Linked DNA regions of Homo sapiens: region 2 is linked to region 1. Evidence: fine-mapped expression QTL. Tissue or cell type: whole blood. Region 1 holds a variant in brackets; the other region holds the start of a gene. All regions are shown on one strand. Distances are from middle to middle.

Region 1 (8,106 bases):
AATGACAAGTTAATGGGTGCAGCACACCAACATGGCACATGTGTACATATGTAACAAACCTGCACGTTGTGCACAGGTACCCTAGAACTTAAAGTATAATAATAAAAAATAAAATTGAGCTGCTTTGTCTTGACAGTACCAGGTGCATAGTAAGCCAAACAAGTCAAACCCAAATGCTTTTTAAGCACTTGTTATGTATTATGCCATGGCAGTTCCTCACTAGAGAGAGCTTATGCTCTCTCTTGTTTGTGATAGAAAAATTGGAAGCAACCTATGCCTATCAACAGAAAAAGTCATAACCTATCATATAGACAAGGAACCTTCAATAAATTCATGGAAAAAAATGTGTATTATGAAAAAACAATACATAGATTTTTTTTTTTTTTTTTTTTTGAGACAGAGTCTCTCTCTGTCACCCTGGCTGGAGTGCAGCAAAGAGAACTTGGCTCACTGCAAGCTCCACCTCCTGGGTTCAAGGTATTCTTGTGCCTCAGTCTACCCAGTAGCTGGGACTACAGGCACACGACACTGCACTCAGCTAATTTTTTGTATTTTTAGTAGCAATGGCCTCAAGTGATCCACCTGCCTCGGCCTCCAAAAGTGCTGAGATTACAGACATAAGCCATCGTGCCCAGCCTAAATTTCAAATTTTTTTGCACCAAAATAAACTCATACTAAGTTCTTATATCTGAACAGAATAGTTCAGAATCAGATATAAGAGGCACTAAGAAGTATAAGACATCAGTTTGGAAAGAGCCCCTATCATAGCAACATGAATTCAGAAAAAATTAAAGCAAGAGAAAACATCAAATTTGTGGTGAAGCTTGAGTAGAAAAATAATGAAATCATGGGAGCTTTATGAAAAGTTTATGGGGACAATGCCCTAAAGAAATCAGCAGTTTACAAATGGATAATTCATTTAAGAAAGAATAAAATGATGTTGAAGACGAAGGCCATAGCAGCAGACAATTTGCAAGGGAAAAATTCATCTTGTACATGCCCTAATTGAAGAGGACCAATTATTGATCGCAGAAAGAATAGCTGACACCATAAACATATCCATTGGTTCAGCTTACACAATTCTGACCGAAAAATTAAAGTTAAGCGAACTTTCCACTTAATGGGTGCCAACACTGTTTTGCCCAGCTCAGCCGCAGACAAGAGCAGAGTTTTCAATGGAAATTTTAAACATGTGAGACCAAGATTCTGAAGCATTTCTTCAAGGAATTGTAACAAGAGATGAAACATAGCTTTACCAGTACAATCCTGAAGACAAAGCACAATCAAAGAAATGGCTAGCAAATGATGGAAGGGGTCCGGTCATAGCAAAGAGAGACAGGTCAAGAGCAAAGGTCATGGCAACAGTTTGTGATGCTCAGGGCATTTTGCTTGTTGACTTTCTGGAGGGCAAAAAATGACAACATCTGCTTATTATAAGAGTGTTTTGAGAGTTAGCTAAAGCATTAGCAGAAAAACACCTGAGAAAGCTTCACTAGAGAGTCCTCCATCATGACAAATGCTTCTGCCCATTCCTCTTATTGAATAATGGCAATTTTGCAAGAGTTTCAGTAGAAAATCATTAGGCGTCCACCTTACAGTCCTGATTTGGCTCCTTCTGGCTTCTTTTTGTTTCCTAATCTTAAAAAATCTTTAAAGGGCACTCATTTTTCTTCAGTTAATAATGTGAAAAGACTGCACTAACATTGCTAAATTCCCAAGGCCCTCAGTTCTTTAGGGATGAACTAAATGGCTGCTATCATTGCTTACAAAAGTGTCTTGAACTTGATGGAGCTGTTTATTTCACCTGGGTGCAGGTGGGCTGAGTCCGAAAAGAGTCAGCGAAGGGAGATAGGGGTGGGGCCGTTTTATAAGATTTGGGCAGGTAAAGGAAAATTACAGTCAAAGGGGGTTTGTTCTCTGGTGGGCAGGAGTGGGGGTCACAAGGTGCTCAGTGGGGTAGCTTTTTGAGCCAGGATGAGCCAGGAAAAGGACTTTCACAAGGTAATGTCATCACTTAAGGCAAGGACCGGCCATTTACACTTGTTTTGTGGTGGAATATCATCAGTTAAGGTGGGGCAGGGCATATTCACTTCTTTTGTGATTCTTCAGTTACTTCAGGCCATCTGGGCATATACATGCAAGTCACAGGGGTTGCGATGGCTTGGCTTGGGCTCAGAGGCCTGACATTCCTGCCTTCTTATATTAATAAGAAAAATAAAATGGTGTTGAAGTGTTGGGGCGGCGAAAATTTTTGGGGGGTGGTATGGAGAGAGAGAATGGGCGATGTTTCTCAGGGCTGCTTCGAGCGGGATTAGGGGCTGCGTGGGAACCTAGAGTGGGAGAGATTAAGCTGAAGGAAGATTTTTGTGGTAAGGGGTGATATTGTGGGGATGTTAGAAGAAACATTTGTCGTGTAGAATTATTGGTGATGGCCTGGATACGGTTTTGTATGAATTGAAAAACTAAATGGAATAAGAGAAGGAGAAAAACAGGTATAAAAGGTCTAAGAATTGGCAGGACCTAGGACATCTGATTAGTGAGTGCCTAAGGAGATTCAGCATAGTCCTGCCAGCAAAAATTATTTATTTACTTCAAGAGTTTAGAGTGGCGGTTTGGGAATAGCACCAAGAGATATCAGCTGTGATGGCTTGGAGAAACAGTGTAAACTGGCAGTGTAAACAAGAGCAGGGCATGTATGAGTAGTTGAGAACGGTGAATAGGAGTATGATTAGACAGAAGATAGGGATGACAAGTTTTTTGGGGCACAGTCTAAGTTGGTCTGGTGTCTGGAAAGAGACTGGGGCCTAATAAAAAGGAGCGTCTATACGGGAGCTTAAATGGGCTGTACCTTGTAGCATTCCGAGGACAGGCCTGAATTCTGAGAAGCGAAAGTGGTAAAAGTATTGTTCAGTCCTTTTTAAGTTGCTGGCTGAGCTTGGTGAGGTGTGTTTTTAATAGACCGCTAGTCTGTCACTGAATACTAAGAGCCTGAAAAAATGCTTGGCTGATTTGACTAATAAAGGCTGGTCTGTTATCAGAATGTATAGAGGTGGGAAGGCTAAACTGAGGAATTATGTCTGACAGAAGGGAAGAAATGACTGCGGTGGCCTTCTCAGACCCTGTAGGAAAGGACTCTACCTATCCAGTGAAAGTGTCTACCTAGACTAAGAGGTAGTTTAGTTATCTGACTCGGGGCTTTGAGTAAAGCTAATTTGCCAGTCCTGGGTGGGGGCAAATCCTCGAGCTTGATGTGTAGGAAAGGGAGGGGGCCTGAATAATCCCTGATGAGTAGTAGAACAGCAGATGGAACACTGAGAAGTTATTTCCTTGAGGATAGATTTCCACAATGGAAAGGAAATGAGAGGTTCTTAAGAGGCAGGCTAGTGGCTTGTACTATAGCATAGCCTGCCTTTGCTGGTGTGTGGCGATTAGGCCTGGTGGAACTGCCATCAAAAAACTAAGTGTGATCAGGGTGAGGAACAGGAAAGAAGCAAATATGGGGAAATGGGATGAATGTCAGGTGGATCAGAGAGATACAGTCATGGGGGTCAGGTGTGGTATCAGGAATAATGTGGGAGGCCAGATTGAAGTCCTGGCCAGGAACAATAGTAATTGTGGGACTTAACAAAGAGTGAGTACAGCTGAAGGTGCCGGGGAGCAGAAAGTATATGTGTCAGGTATGAGGAAGAAAATCGATTTTGGAAGTTATGAGAAATGTAGAGAGTGAGTTGAGCATAGTTTGTGATTTTGAGGGCCTCTAAAAGTATTAAAGCAGCGGCAGCCGCTGCACGCGGACATGAGGGCTAGGCTAAAACAGTAAGGTCAAGTTGTTTGGACAGAAAGGCTGCAGGATGTGGTCCTGGCTCTTGTGTAAGAATTCTGACCGCGCTAACCATG[C/A]CTAGGAAGGAAAGGAGTTGTTGTTTTGTAGAAGGTGCTGGGGTTTGAGAGATTAGTCGGACACGATCGGCAGGGAGAGCACGTGTGTTTTTATGAAGAATTATGCCGAGGTAGGTAACCGATGGAGAAGAAATTTGAGCTTTGGAGGGGGATACTCGATATCCTTTGGAGAATAAATGCTGAAGGAGCAGAGGTGTGTCTTGTTGAGAAGATTCAAAGGAGGGGCTACAAAGAAGAAGATCATCAATATATTGAATAAGGTGAGAAGCAGAGGGGTGGAAAGAAAGTAAATCATGAGAAAGAGCTTGGCTGAAGTAATGAGAGCTGTCCCTGAAACCTTGTGGCAGCACAGCCCAGGTAAGCTGCTGGGACTGATGGGTGTCAGCGTCAGTCCAGGTGAAAGCAGAGAGAGGCTGGGACGAGGGGTGCAGGGGAATAGTGAAAAAAGCATCTTTAAGATCAAGAACGGAATAGTGAGTTGTGGAGGAAGGTATTGAGGACGAAAGGGTGTACCGGTTGGGCACCACAGGGCGGATAGGCAAAACAATTTGGTTGATAAGGCGCAGATCCTGAACTAATCTGTAAGACTTGTGCGGTTTTTGGACAGGTAAAATGGGGGAATTGTAAGGAGAGTTTATAGGTTTTAGAAGCCCATGCTGTAGCAGGCGAGTGATAACAGGCTTTAATCCCTTTAAAGCGTGCTGTGGGATGGGACATTGGCGTTGAGAGGGGTAAGGGTGATTAGGTTTTAATGGGATGGTGATGGGCATGTGATCGGTTGCCAGGGAAGGAGTAGAGATGTTCCATACTTGTGGGTTAAGGTGGGGGGATATGAGAGGAAGACGCAAAGGAGGCTTTGGGTTGGGGAGAAGGGCGGCAATGAGATGCGGCTGTAATCCAGGAATAGTCAGGGAAGCAGATAATTTAAAGTGTCTCGGCCTAATAAGGGAACGGGGCAGGTGGGGATAACTAAAAAGGAGTGCTTAAAAGGGTATTGTCTAAGTTGGCACCAGAGTTGGGGAGTTTTAAGAGGTTTAGAAGCCTGGCTGTCAATACCCACAACAGTTATGGAGGCAAGGGAAATAGACCCTTGAAAAGAAGGTAATGTGGAGTGGGTAGCCTCGTATTGATAAGAAGGGGATGGACTTACCCTCCGCTGTGAGAGTTACCTAAAGCTCGGCGTCCGTGATGGTCTGCGGGGCTTCTGAGGCGATCGGGCAGCATCAGTCTTCAGCCGCTAAGCCAAGAAGGAGTCAGTCAGAGAGCCTCGGGCCAGAGTTCCAGGGGCTCTGGGAGTGGCTGCCAGGTGAGTTGAACAGTCCGATTTCCAGTGGGGTCCCGCACAGATGGGACACGGCTTAGGAGGAATCCTGGGCTGCGGGCATTCCTTGGCCTGGTGGTCAGATTTCTGGCACTTGAAGCAAGCTCCTGGGGGAGGAGGTTCTGGAGGAACGCCTGGCTGCTGCGGTTCAGGTGTTTGGAAGTTCTTGTGTGCTGGAGATGTGGCTGGGATTTGTCTCAGAGTGGAGGCAAGGAATTGCAACTTTTTTCTATTATTGTACACCTGGAAGGCGAGGTTAATTAAATCCTGTTGTGGGGTTTGAGGGCCGGAATTTAATTTTTGGAGTTTTATTTAATGTCAGGAGCAGATTGGGTAATAAAATGTATATTGAGAATAAGACGGCCTTTTGACCTTTTAGGGTCTAGGGCTGTAAAGCGTCTCAGGGTTGCTGCCGAACGAACCATGAACTGGGCTGGGTTTTTTATATTTGATGAAAAAGAGCCTAAACGCTATCTGATTTGGGGTAAAGAAAAAGGAGCATTAACCTTGACTATGCCTTCAGCTCCAGCCACCTTTTTAAGAGTAAATTGCTGGGCAGGTGGGGGAGGGCTAGTCACGGAATGAAACCATAAGCCGGACCAGGTGTGAGGAGGGGAGGTGATAAAAGGAGCGGACCAGGGTGGAGGAGCGGAGGCTGAGGAAGAATTGGGACCTAGCTCGGCCTGGTGAGGAGGGGAGAGGTCAGATGGGTCTGTAGAAAAGGAAGATTAGAAAGACTCAGCGACGCTTGGGGTTGGGACTGAGGGGACAGGCGGGAGGGAAAGAAGGAAGATTTGGGATGAGTTGCATTGGGAACAGAGACTAGAGAGGGACCGATGCGTAAAAGAATGCCTGGACGTCAGGCACCTCAGACCATTTGCCCATTTTATGACAAGAATTATTTAGATCTTGTAGGGTGGAAAAATTGAAAGTGCCGTTTTCTGGCTATTTGGAACTACTGTCGAGTATGTATTGGGGTCAAGCGGCATTGCAGAAGAAAATCAGAGAAATGCAAATCAAAACCACAATGAGATACCATCTCACACCAGTTAGAATGGCGATCATTAAAAAGTCAGGAAACAACAGGTGCTGGAGAGGATGTGGAGAAATAGGAACACTTTTACACTGTTGGTGGGACTGTAAACTAGTTCAACCGTTGTGGAAGTCAGTGTGGCGATTCCTCAGGGATCTAGAACTAGAAATACCATTTGACCCAGCCATCCCGTTACTGGGTATATACCCAAAGGATTATAAATCATGCTGCTATAAAGACACATGCACACGTATGTTTATTACGGCACTATTCACAATAGCAAAGACTTGGAACCAACCCAAATGTCCAACAATGATAGACTGGATTAAGAAAATGTGGCACATATACACTATGGAATACTATGCAGCCATAAAAAAGGATGAGTTCATGTCCTTTGTAGGGACATGGATGAAACTGGAAACCATCATTCTCAGCAAACTATCACAAGGACAAAAAACCAAACACCGCATGTTCTCACTCATAGGTGGGAATTGAACAATGAGAACACATGGACACAGGAAGGGGAACATCACGCACCGGGGACTGTTGTGGGGTGGGGGTAGTGGGGAGGGATAGCATTAGGAGATATACCTAATGCTAAATGACGAGTTAATGGGTGCAGCACACCAACATGGCACATGTATACATATGTAACTAACCTGCACATTGTGCACATGTACCCTAAAACTTAAAGTATAATAAAAAAAAAAAAAGTTTACATTTTGTATTTTTATCTCTTAATTCCATTTTTTTTCCAGGAACATTTTGAAGTCCCCTCATATACAATGAAATGATAGATTTGTCAACACAGATAAATCTCAAAAACACAATAAGTGAAGAAAGTAAGTTGCAGATGGAAATAATATGTGATGGTCAAACAATCTAGATGTTTCCGTGAAGGTGTTTTTGGATGAGACTAACATTGACATTGGTGGACTTTGAGTAAAGCAGGTTGCCTGCGTGCCATAATGTGGGTATTCTCATCCAATCAGTTGCGGGATTTAACAGAGCAAAGACTGAGGTCCCCTGAGAAAATAGGATTCCACCAGCAGACAGCCTTCAGCCTTGAACTGCAGTGTCACCTCTTCACTGGGCCTCCCAACCTGCTGACACTTTGATCTTGGACTTCTAGCCTCCATAACTGTGTGAGCCAATTCCCTAAAATAAATCTCTCTCTGTACACATTCTATGGTTATGTTTCCCTGGAGAACCCTGACTAATACACAGTATAACACAATTTAACATAAAGTTTAAAATAATGCAAAATAGTCCTAGGAAAGGTTTTATACATATGTAGTAAAACTTTCATGGGAGTGGTAAGCACCAAATTTAGGGCAGCAGTGACCTCTGGGGGGGTGGGGGTGGAATTCAATCAGGACAGAGTACAAGGGGAGTTTCAATTATATCTAAAATCTTTGATTTCAGGTTTTAAAAAAAGGTTTTTTAACAAATAACACTGAGTTGACAATGCTGAGTATTAGGTGGCTTTTTATGTGTTAAAAATATTTCATAATTAAGAACAGAATGAGATCGATCGCATAAATAAAATCAACTTGGAAAAGAAAACTAGCACAGTGGCTGATACATCTTGGGACCCTGACAGACACAGGGAGAGACTGGCTGGGACAAGTTTGATGGAGAAGGCAGGTCAGAGCGAGGGCAGGCGGTATGGAAGTGTGGCCTTAGGGAACAGTGGGCGGGGTGACTGCAGAGGTCATGTGGACGCAGTCCCAGTCACCCAGGTGGCTCTCCAACAGGCCCTGCGTGTTTACCCGAAGGTGGCCCTGCACAGACAGTTATCCCCGACTTTCCTCTGACAAGATATTTCCTGGGCACTTGCCAACATCAGAGGAAT
Region 2 (8,106 bases), 59 kb before region 1:
GAATTTGAAAATCACCATTTGGCAACCATAATAAGTAATAATTGACGTGGGCAGGAATCATCAATTGATGCTAAAACTAAAACTTCTGGGACAGAAAGTTTGAGGAATAACAATATTTACTCAAAATAGACTAAAAATATTTTTCCACAAGATACTTACTAATTACAAATGGAAAAACAGTAACTTTACAGTGGAGAAGCTTGGCACACGCCACCTGAACCCAGTAAACAAAATTAATATCACCAGGAGAGGGACATATTGATATCACATGCCTCCTGGTGAGTTTTATGGTATTCCAACTGAAAGTGTGCAACTTGAATCTAACCTGAGGAAATACCAGAACTCAAGTTGAGGAGTATTTTGTAAAATAACTGCCCTGTTGAGACGGATTGAACTGTGACTCCAAAAAAAGATATGTTGAAGTTTGAATCCCCACTATGTCAGAACGTGACCTGATTTGGAAATAAGAGTTGTTGCAGATGTAATTAATTAAGATGAGGTCCTACTAGAGGAGAATGGGCCTTTAATCCAATATGACAGGTATCCTTATTAGAAGAGAAGAAAAGCCACAGAGACACAGACACGCAAAGGGAGAACAACACGTGAAGACAGAGGCAGGGGCTGCAGGGCTGCAGCTGCAAACCAAGGCACACCAGGGGCTGCCGGCAACCACTGGAAGCTGGGAATATGCAAGAAAAGATTCCCCCTACAGGTTTCTGGGGGGAGCACAGCCCCGCTGACACCTTGATTTTGGACTTCTAGCTATCAGAGCAGTGGGAAAATAACTTTGTGCTGTTTAAAGCCATCCGGTTTGTAATCATTTGTTATGGCCGGCCTAGGAAACTAATACATTTGTGTTTGTCAGAATGCCAATGTCATGAAATGCAGATGGAAAGGCTGAGGACTTCTTCAGATTCAAGTAGACTAAAGAGACATAACAACTGAATGTTACTTGTGATCTAAAATGTTCTTTTGTTCTAAAGGACATTATTGAGACATCTGGCAACATCTGAATAGAATATTCAGACTGGATAATAATATTATCACCAATGCTAATTTCTTGATTTTTTTTTAAACTTTTTATTTTTAGAGATAGGGTCTTTGTCACCACACAGTAATAGTGAGAGACTATTATATTGGGAGTGTCTTTTCTTCGCTTCTAATAAGGAGTTCTGTCGTGTCTATTAGGTCCATTTGGTTTTGTTGAGTTCAGGTCCTGAACATCTTTACCAGTTTTCTGCCTTGATGATCCGTCTAATACTGTCAGTGGGGTGTTGAAGTCTCCCACTATTATTGTGTGGTTATCTGAATTTCTTCTTAGGTCTCCAAGAACTTGTTTTATGAATCTGGGTGCTCCTGTGTTGGGTGGATATGTATTTACGATAGTTAGGTTTTCTTGTTGAATTGAAACCTTTACCATTATAGAATATTAATTATATAAGGGTAACAAATTTTCTTAGTATTTACTTATCTGAAAAGGATCTTGTTTTTCCTTCACTTATGAGGCTCAGTTGGCTGAATATGAAATTCTTGGTTGGAATTTCTTTTTTATTTTATTTATTTATTTTCTTTGAGATGGGGTCTCACTCTGTCATTCAGGCTGGAGTGCGATGGCGCCATCTTGGCTCACAGCAACCTCCATCTCGGGTTCAAGTGATTCTCCTGACTCAGCCTCCCAAGTAGCTGGGATTACAGGTGCCCACCACCATGCCTGGCTAATTTTTGTATTTTTAGTAGAGATGGAGTTTTACTGTGTCGGTCAGGTGGTCTCAAACTCCTGACCTCAGGTGATCCACCTGCCTCGGCCTCCCAAAGTGCTGGGATTACAGGTGTGAGTCACTGCACCTGGCCGGAATTTCTTTAAAAAAAAAAATGCTGAATATAGGCCCCCCCCATCTTTTCTGGTTGTATAGTTTCTACTGAAAGGCCTGCTGTTAGCCTAATGGTGTTTCCTTTGTAGGTGACCTGCTGTTTCTCTCTAGCTGCCTTTAAAACTTTTTCTTTATTTCGACCTTACAGAATCTGATGACTATGTGTCTTGGGGATAGTGATCTTTTATAGCGTCTGGCAGGGGTTCTCTGCATTTCCTGCCTTTGAATGTTGGCCTCTAGCAAGGTTGGGGAAATATTCACCGGCAATATCCTCAAATATGTTTTCCAAGTAGCTTGCTTTCTCTCCTTCTCTTTCAGGGATGCCAGTGAACTGTAGATCTGGTCTCTTTACATAACCTGTATTTCTCGGAGGTTTTATTCATACTTTTAAATTCTTTTTTTCTTTATTTTTGTCTGACTGAGTTATTTTGGAGAACGGTCTTCAAGCTCTGAGAGTGTTTCCTCAGTTTGGTCTATTCTACTATTAATACTTGAGATTGTATTACTAAATTCTTGAAGTGAGTTTTTTAGGTCTATCGGATCAGTTTATTTTTTTCTTAAAATAGCCATTTCATCCTTCATCTCCTGTAGCATCTTATTGATTCCTTGGATGGGGTTGCAACTTTCTCCTGAATCTCAATGATCTTCATTCCTATCCATTTTCTGAATTCTATGTCTGTCATTTCAGCCATTTCAGGCTGGCTAGGGACGATTGCTAGAGAATTAGTGTGGTGGTTTGGAGGTAAGAAGACACTCTGGTTTTTGAGTTGCCAGAGTTCTCACACTAGTTCTTTCTCATCTGTGTGGGCTGATGTTCCTTCAATTTTTGAAGTTGATGTGCTTTGGAGAGGTTTTCTGCTTTTATCTTCTTTGATGATCTTGGTTTGATTGTGGTATATGGTGGGTTTGGTTGACTTGCTTCATTTCTGGAAGATTTTAGGGGGCCCAGACTCAGCTCAGCACTCCTGGGCTGCGTGCTCTAACTCTGGGAGGGCTGGTGCTGGGCGCCTGGCTGTGCTATCTGAACCCTCAAGGTTAGGAATCTATTCTGCTGGAGGGGCTGAGTTGTTCCCAGTCTGCTGGCCACAGCACTGTGATGGAAGATGCTAGCCAAAGCACTTGGTCAGGGTGGTGTCAGTGAGATCTGTGCTTACTGATGTATGGCAGCAGCTGCAGCAGCATGGCGGGGTGCACACGTGTTAGCTGGGGAGGGGTTCCAGCAGAAATGGGGAGGCGGTGTTCCTGCATGTGCTCATGCCAGTGGTGGTGGTGGTGCATTGGTAGGGGGGAAAATGGGGGCTGGGGCACTGGCAGCCGTGGGGTTGCTGGTGTTGCACTTGTACTGGCGGTGGTGGCAGCTGGGGTGGGGTGCTGGTGGAGGTGAGGTTGCCAGCATTCATGAGCATGTTATAAAATTTTTAAATTTTTGTCTCAATTTTTTTTAAGTCACAAACATTTTTATTGGAAAGCAATGAGCTGCAGCAAAGTGACACTCAGTGCATGCAGCCAAATGGGTGAGGTGGGGGTACAGGTGGGTGCCAAGAGCTGACCCAAGACTAGAGCTCATGACCTCTGGGGCCTCTGGCTATAAGCCCTTTGGGCTGGAGTGTGCAGGCCCAGCAGAAATACAAAAATAAACTCTGTGGTCTAGCTGTCCCTGCCTGTGGTAGTTCGTTTGGGCAAGGTGGTTACTCTTTGCAGCAGGTCCTGTGCTGTCTAGTCCAGCCACAGCGTGGGCAGCAGAAGCCTATGGGGTTGAGTGGACACCTACAGGCTGGAGCCAAAGGGCCAGGCAGGTGTGGCCTTGGGCAGTGCTGAGACTCTGACAGCACCAGGGTCTGGCCTGCAGCTGGGGAGGCCTCAGGGCCTCTCAGGTGGGCAGGTCCAGGCATTGGTTGAAGCTGGATGAAGCTGGGGCCTGTGCTACTCCTCATCACATACAAATCACTGGGAACCTGTCCTCCTTGGTCTGGTCTCTTCGGCCCCACCCTCACTGCCTCCACCTCTGCTTCCTTTCTCTTCCTCCTCTTCCCCCAGTTCCAGGTCCATCTCGTTGCCTGCCTCTGAGGGTGTGCAGGTGGAGCTGCTAATGGAGCGGTGGCTGAAGAAAACAATTTGCTTGAGCCCTTTGTTGTAGAAGAAGTAGTTGAAGGACCAGAGGGTATCTTCTTCTCTGAAGGCATCTGGGTCCATGTCTGGGTTATAGCTGTGGGTGTCTCATTAAGCCAGGTGGATCTCCTCATCCACTGTGTTCCACAGCTGTGTTCTAGGACCTTGATGTCCCCCCACGCAGCTGAGAACAGACTGCGGTTGACTGCATTCACCACCCACCTGAGGCTGGGCTTCCGGCTGAACCCATGGCTGCGGGCTGTGCTGAGGTCATAGTCAGGCCTGAAAGGACTCGCTGAGCATGACAATCAAGTGGAAGAGGGTCTTGCAATTGCACTTGTCCCTGAGGGGGGCCCTTGTCCTTGCCACCTTGGTTCTTGCTCAGGCTGCTGGGGCTGAGGCCTGAGGTCTGGGATGGGGAGAGAGCCTTCAGTATGTGGGCCGCCCTCCTGTCAGAACAGTGTTTGTCGTCTCCTGCTATCTTACGTGAGTAGCTCTCAATCCTGCTGATAATGTGGGTATCTTTGCTCTCTACAGTTAGCTGTGAGTTGATGGCTTCAAAGCCCAGTTCTCCAATAGCTTCCTGTCTCAGGGAGGGAGCTCCATGCTTGAGAGGGGCCATTGCTGCCTGCCTGGTGGGGCTAAATCAGGCCTGGCTGGGTCATCGGCACCGGTGCATAGGCAGGGCAGGCTCCGCACAGTGTGGGCTCCTCAGCACCAGAGGGTGGCACCGTGGCATCCACCTGGGCCACACTGTATCTGGGGGAAGAAACTCCATGGCAATGTTTCATTATACCTGGCCCTGCTGGCTCATCCAGGTGGTCACTATGACACATCCTTACCACACTGCACATTGCCTGCTTTAGCCACCAACATGCCACCAACCACCACAGATCACCTTGGTCAGCCAGCAACCTCCACCTCCCCCACCAGTCAATGTCTATCAGTCAAAATTCCTAGAACTAAATAAGTATAAAAGAAACTTAACTACTTCAACTTAAAAATAATTTGCTTCTGTCTGCCTATGAAAATGTTAATATTTGTGAAATCTGAGTGAAGGGTATATGGCAATTCTTCAACTATTCTTTCAACTGCTCTGTAAGCCTGAAATTATGTTAAAATAAAAATTCAAAAACAAAAGCCAAAAACCTTGTACCCTTAAGGGTTACTTGAGTTAGTGGTTCACAGCAACAGATACTCAAATCTGGTTTGTGTTACTTCTGAAAATTAAGCTTCATATCTTTTTCTTCATGGCTCTTTCTGGTGTAAAGTACAACTTGAATCTCATGTTAGAAGGTCTATCCCAACAAAGCCCAGACCACTGGACTCTAGAGGCTTCACGCATGTGGCAGACTCCTGAATATTGTCAGGCTTTATCTCCCATTTTCTGGCATTGCAGGTACTTTACTAAGGCATTTAGGTGCTAGCTCTTTGGGGCTCTCCAGGTCCAATTAGCATGATAAAGATATGTAATGGATCAGCTTGGGCTTCTGGGTCCCTCCAGATTGCATTCTGACTAAGTGCAGGCAAGCCGACATAGCCCGGAGGCAGGACAGTAAAAGTATACTGCTGTCCCTGCCACAACAGGGCAGAAGAGGATTAAGGTGGGGGTGGGCAGGATAAAGCATTTGCCAGGTCAATAGTGGCCCAGGTGCCAGGGACTGTGTGGATTTGCTCCAGTAAAAATACCGTCTCTGCAATTCTGGTTGTGATTCACCTCACCACTGGATTAGTCCGTGATGATCTGTGGTCATTTTCTATGACCTACTTGATTTGTACACTGATCAAACAAGTGAGTTAATTGTGGATTTGGTAGGAATCACTACCTTGTATCTTTCAAGTCTTTGGTGGTGGCATTAAGCTCATGTGAGGAGCAGAAAAAAAGTTTGTGAGAAGGCTGGCACACTGTAGGAGCTTGATAAATGATAGCTATCATCATTGTTGTTGTCATGTGTTATTGTCTTAGCCAAGTCAGGGTCAAAATTTACATTATCTTTTTTCTTTTTGAAATATCATATTTCATTGCTCCTAAGAAGCATACTGTTGTGTACTTTAACATCTCTGAAGTCAGGATATGATAATAGTTGATGGTATGTTGTGATTGCTGTTGTTTCGATTAAAATTGTGTTCATTTGTAGAGGATTTTTCTTTGCTTCTGCCTGTCACTTGGGGCACAGGCTGAGTTACCAATGAGAGTAAAGCTTCAGGACACCTCATTTGCATGGCCCTTCCAAGGTCCTGAAAGGGTTCCACCTCACAGCTTCATGGGATCAAATTACATATTTTTTTTCTGAGACAGTCTCAATCTGTTGCCCAGGTTGGAGTGCAGTGTTGCTATCTCAGCTCACTGCAAACTCTGCCTCCCAAGTTGAAGTGATTCCCATGCTTCAGACTCCAGAGTAGCTGAGGCACGTGCCACCACACCCAGCTAATTTTCTTTGTATTTTTAGTAGAGAGATGCAGTTTTGCCATGTTGGCCAGGATGGTCTCAAATTCCTGGCCTCAAGTGATCTGCCTGTCTCAGCCTCCCAAAGCGCTGGGATCACAGATGTGAACCACCACACTCAGCCTCATCATAGGTTTTTATAAAATTTGCAAGAGTAAGATATTTTGTATTTCTTTTTTAAAAGAGGGCATCAAATTATATAAGCTTTGGGTTCTACCCTTGCCAAGGAACTCATAATAATGTGAAACTACAGGTGGTCCCTAACTTTACGATGTTTCAGCTTATGATTTTCCAACTTTGTGATAGTGTGAAAACAATATGCATTCAGTGTGCTTCTCAACTTACAACTGGATAAAGTTGACTTATGATATAGTCACCTTATGATGGTTTATCAGGACATAACATCATCATAAGTTGAGGTGCATTTGTACATTAAATTCTCTGAGGTTTTTTTGATGGCACAAGTAGTACCAGAAAACTGCATGAGAACCAACTTTTGATTCAAATTATACGGGCAGATTTTACTTCCTCCATCCATGGCAAAATTGAAACATGCAACTTCTCTTGCTGTCCTACTATGCATGTCCCTTTCTTTCTCTTTTTTCTGTATATTTCTCATGGACCCCCTCCACAGAGGCCTTTAGTGTCTCAGCTTTATCTGGGGTCTAATAGACTTCTATCTGGAGTAGTTTCATTTTTAGTGGCACATCCAGTAATGGTATCTCTATTAATCAATGATGCCTTAGGTTCCATGAACATAGTACATAATAGGGTACTCAAGATGGGTCCCCCTGAGACCAGCAGGCTGGCCTGTGGAGTTTGGACAACACTGCCCCCTAGAGGTCTGTCTTGTAACCTGAGAAGATTAGCCCCCTAACAATTACTGACAGGGAGTTTCTTAAAAATCAGGAAGGATGCTCACTTTTATTTATTATTTATTTTTTATTATTATTATTTTTGAGACAGAGTCTTGCTCTGTTCCCCAGGCTGGAGTGCAGTGGTGCAGTCTCAGCTCACTGCAACCTCCACCTCCAGGGTTCAAGCAATTCTCCTGCCTCAGCCTCCTGTGTAGCTGGGATGACAGGCGCCTGCCACTACACCTGGCTAATTTTTAGATTTTAAGTAGAGACGGGGTTTTACCATGTTGGCCAGGCTGTTCTCGAACTCCTGACCTTGTGATCCACCAGTCTCGACCTCCCAAAGTGCTGGGATTACAGGCGTGAGCCACCGTGTCTGGCCTTATTTATATTTTTAAAAACAGGATCTCGATCTGTCACCCAGGCTGGAGTGTAATGGCATGATCATGGCTCCCTACAGTCCCCACTTCCTGGGCTCAAGCAATCTCTCCCACCTCAACCTTCCAAGTGATGGCAGTGGCAGCTTATCTGGAGCAGCTGCTGCAAAGACGCTGGCTGCAGTAGGGGAGGCACACCAGGGCTGTGTACTCCAGGAAGCTGGCAAGAGCCGGTGGAAGCTGGCAGGAGCCGGTGGAAGCTGGGAACAGGAGGAAGCCAGGACTCATTCCTGGTTGGAGAGACAGGAGCCCCACCCTCCCAGGTGCAGCTGCAACTGCCCAGCTGCCCTGCAGACCTAGGCATTCCTGCACTCTCGGGGGCCAGGAAGTCCCCCATGGCCCCATAGGCTTGGGAATGCCTGCTCCTGCTGCCTGGCCTCTCTCTG

The links. PIP is the estimated chance that this variant, and not a neighbour inherited with it, causes the effect.
Region 2: BFSP2-AS1 starts here. The variant in region 1 is fine-mapped to the expression of BFSP2-AS1 in whole blood (TOPMed, PIP above 0.99).

Annotation. Positions count from the first base shown.
Region 1 is chr3:133,428,613-133,436,718 of GRCh38, reverse strand. The region is part of intron 1 of BFSP2 (beaded filament structural protein 2); the gene reads right to left. All of the region lies in intron 3 of BFSP2-AS1 (BFSP2 antisense RNA 1), which reads left to right. Among named protein-coding and RNA genes, the nearest start is that of BFSP2, 33 kb to the right of the region's middle. The variant C/A (reference allele first, on the strand shown) is at 3,898.
Region 2 is chr3:133,487,262-133,495,367 of GRCh38, reverse strand. It overlaps BFSP2-AS1 (BFSP2 antisense RNA 1), which reads left to right and starts at 4,259. Exons shown (of 4, transcript NR_189064.1): 1 at 4,259-4,466. It also overlaps the pseudogene MAF1P1. RefSeq lists enhancers at 6,138-6,267, 6,288-6,337, 7,489-7,989.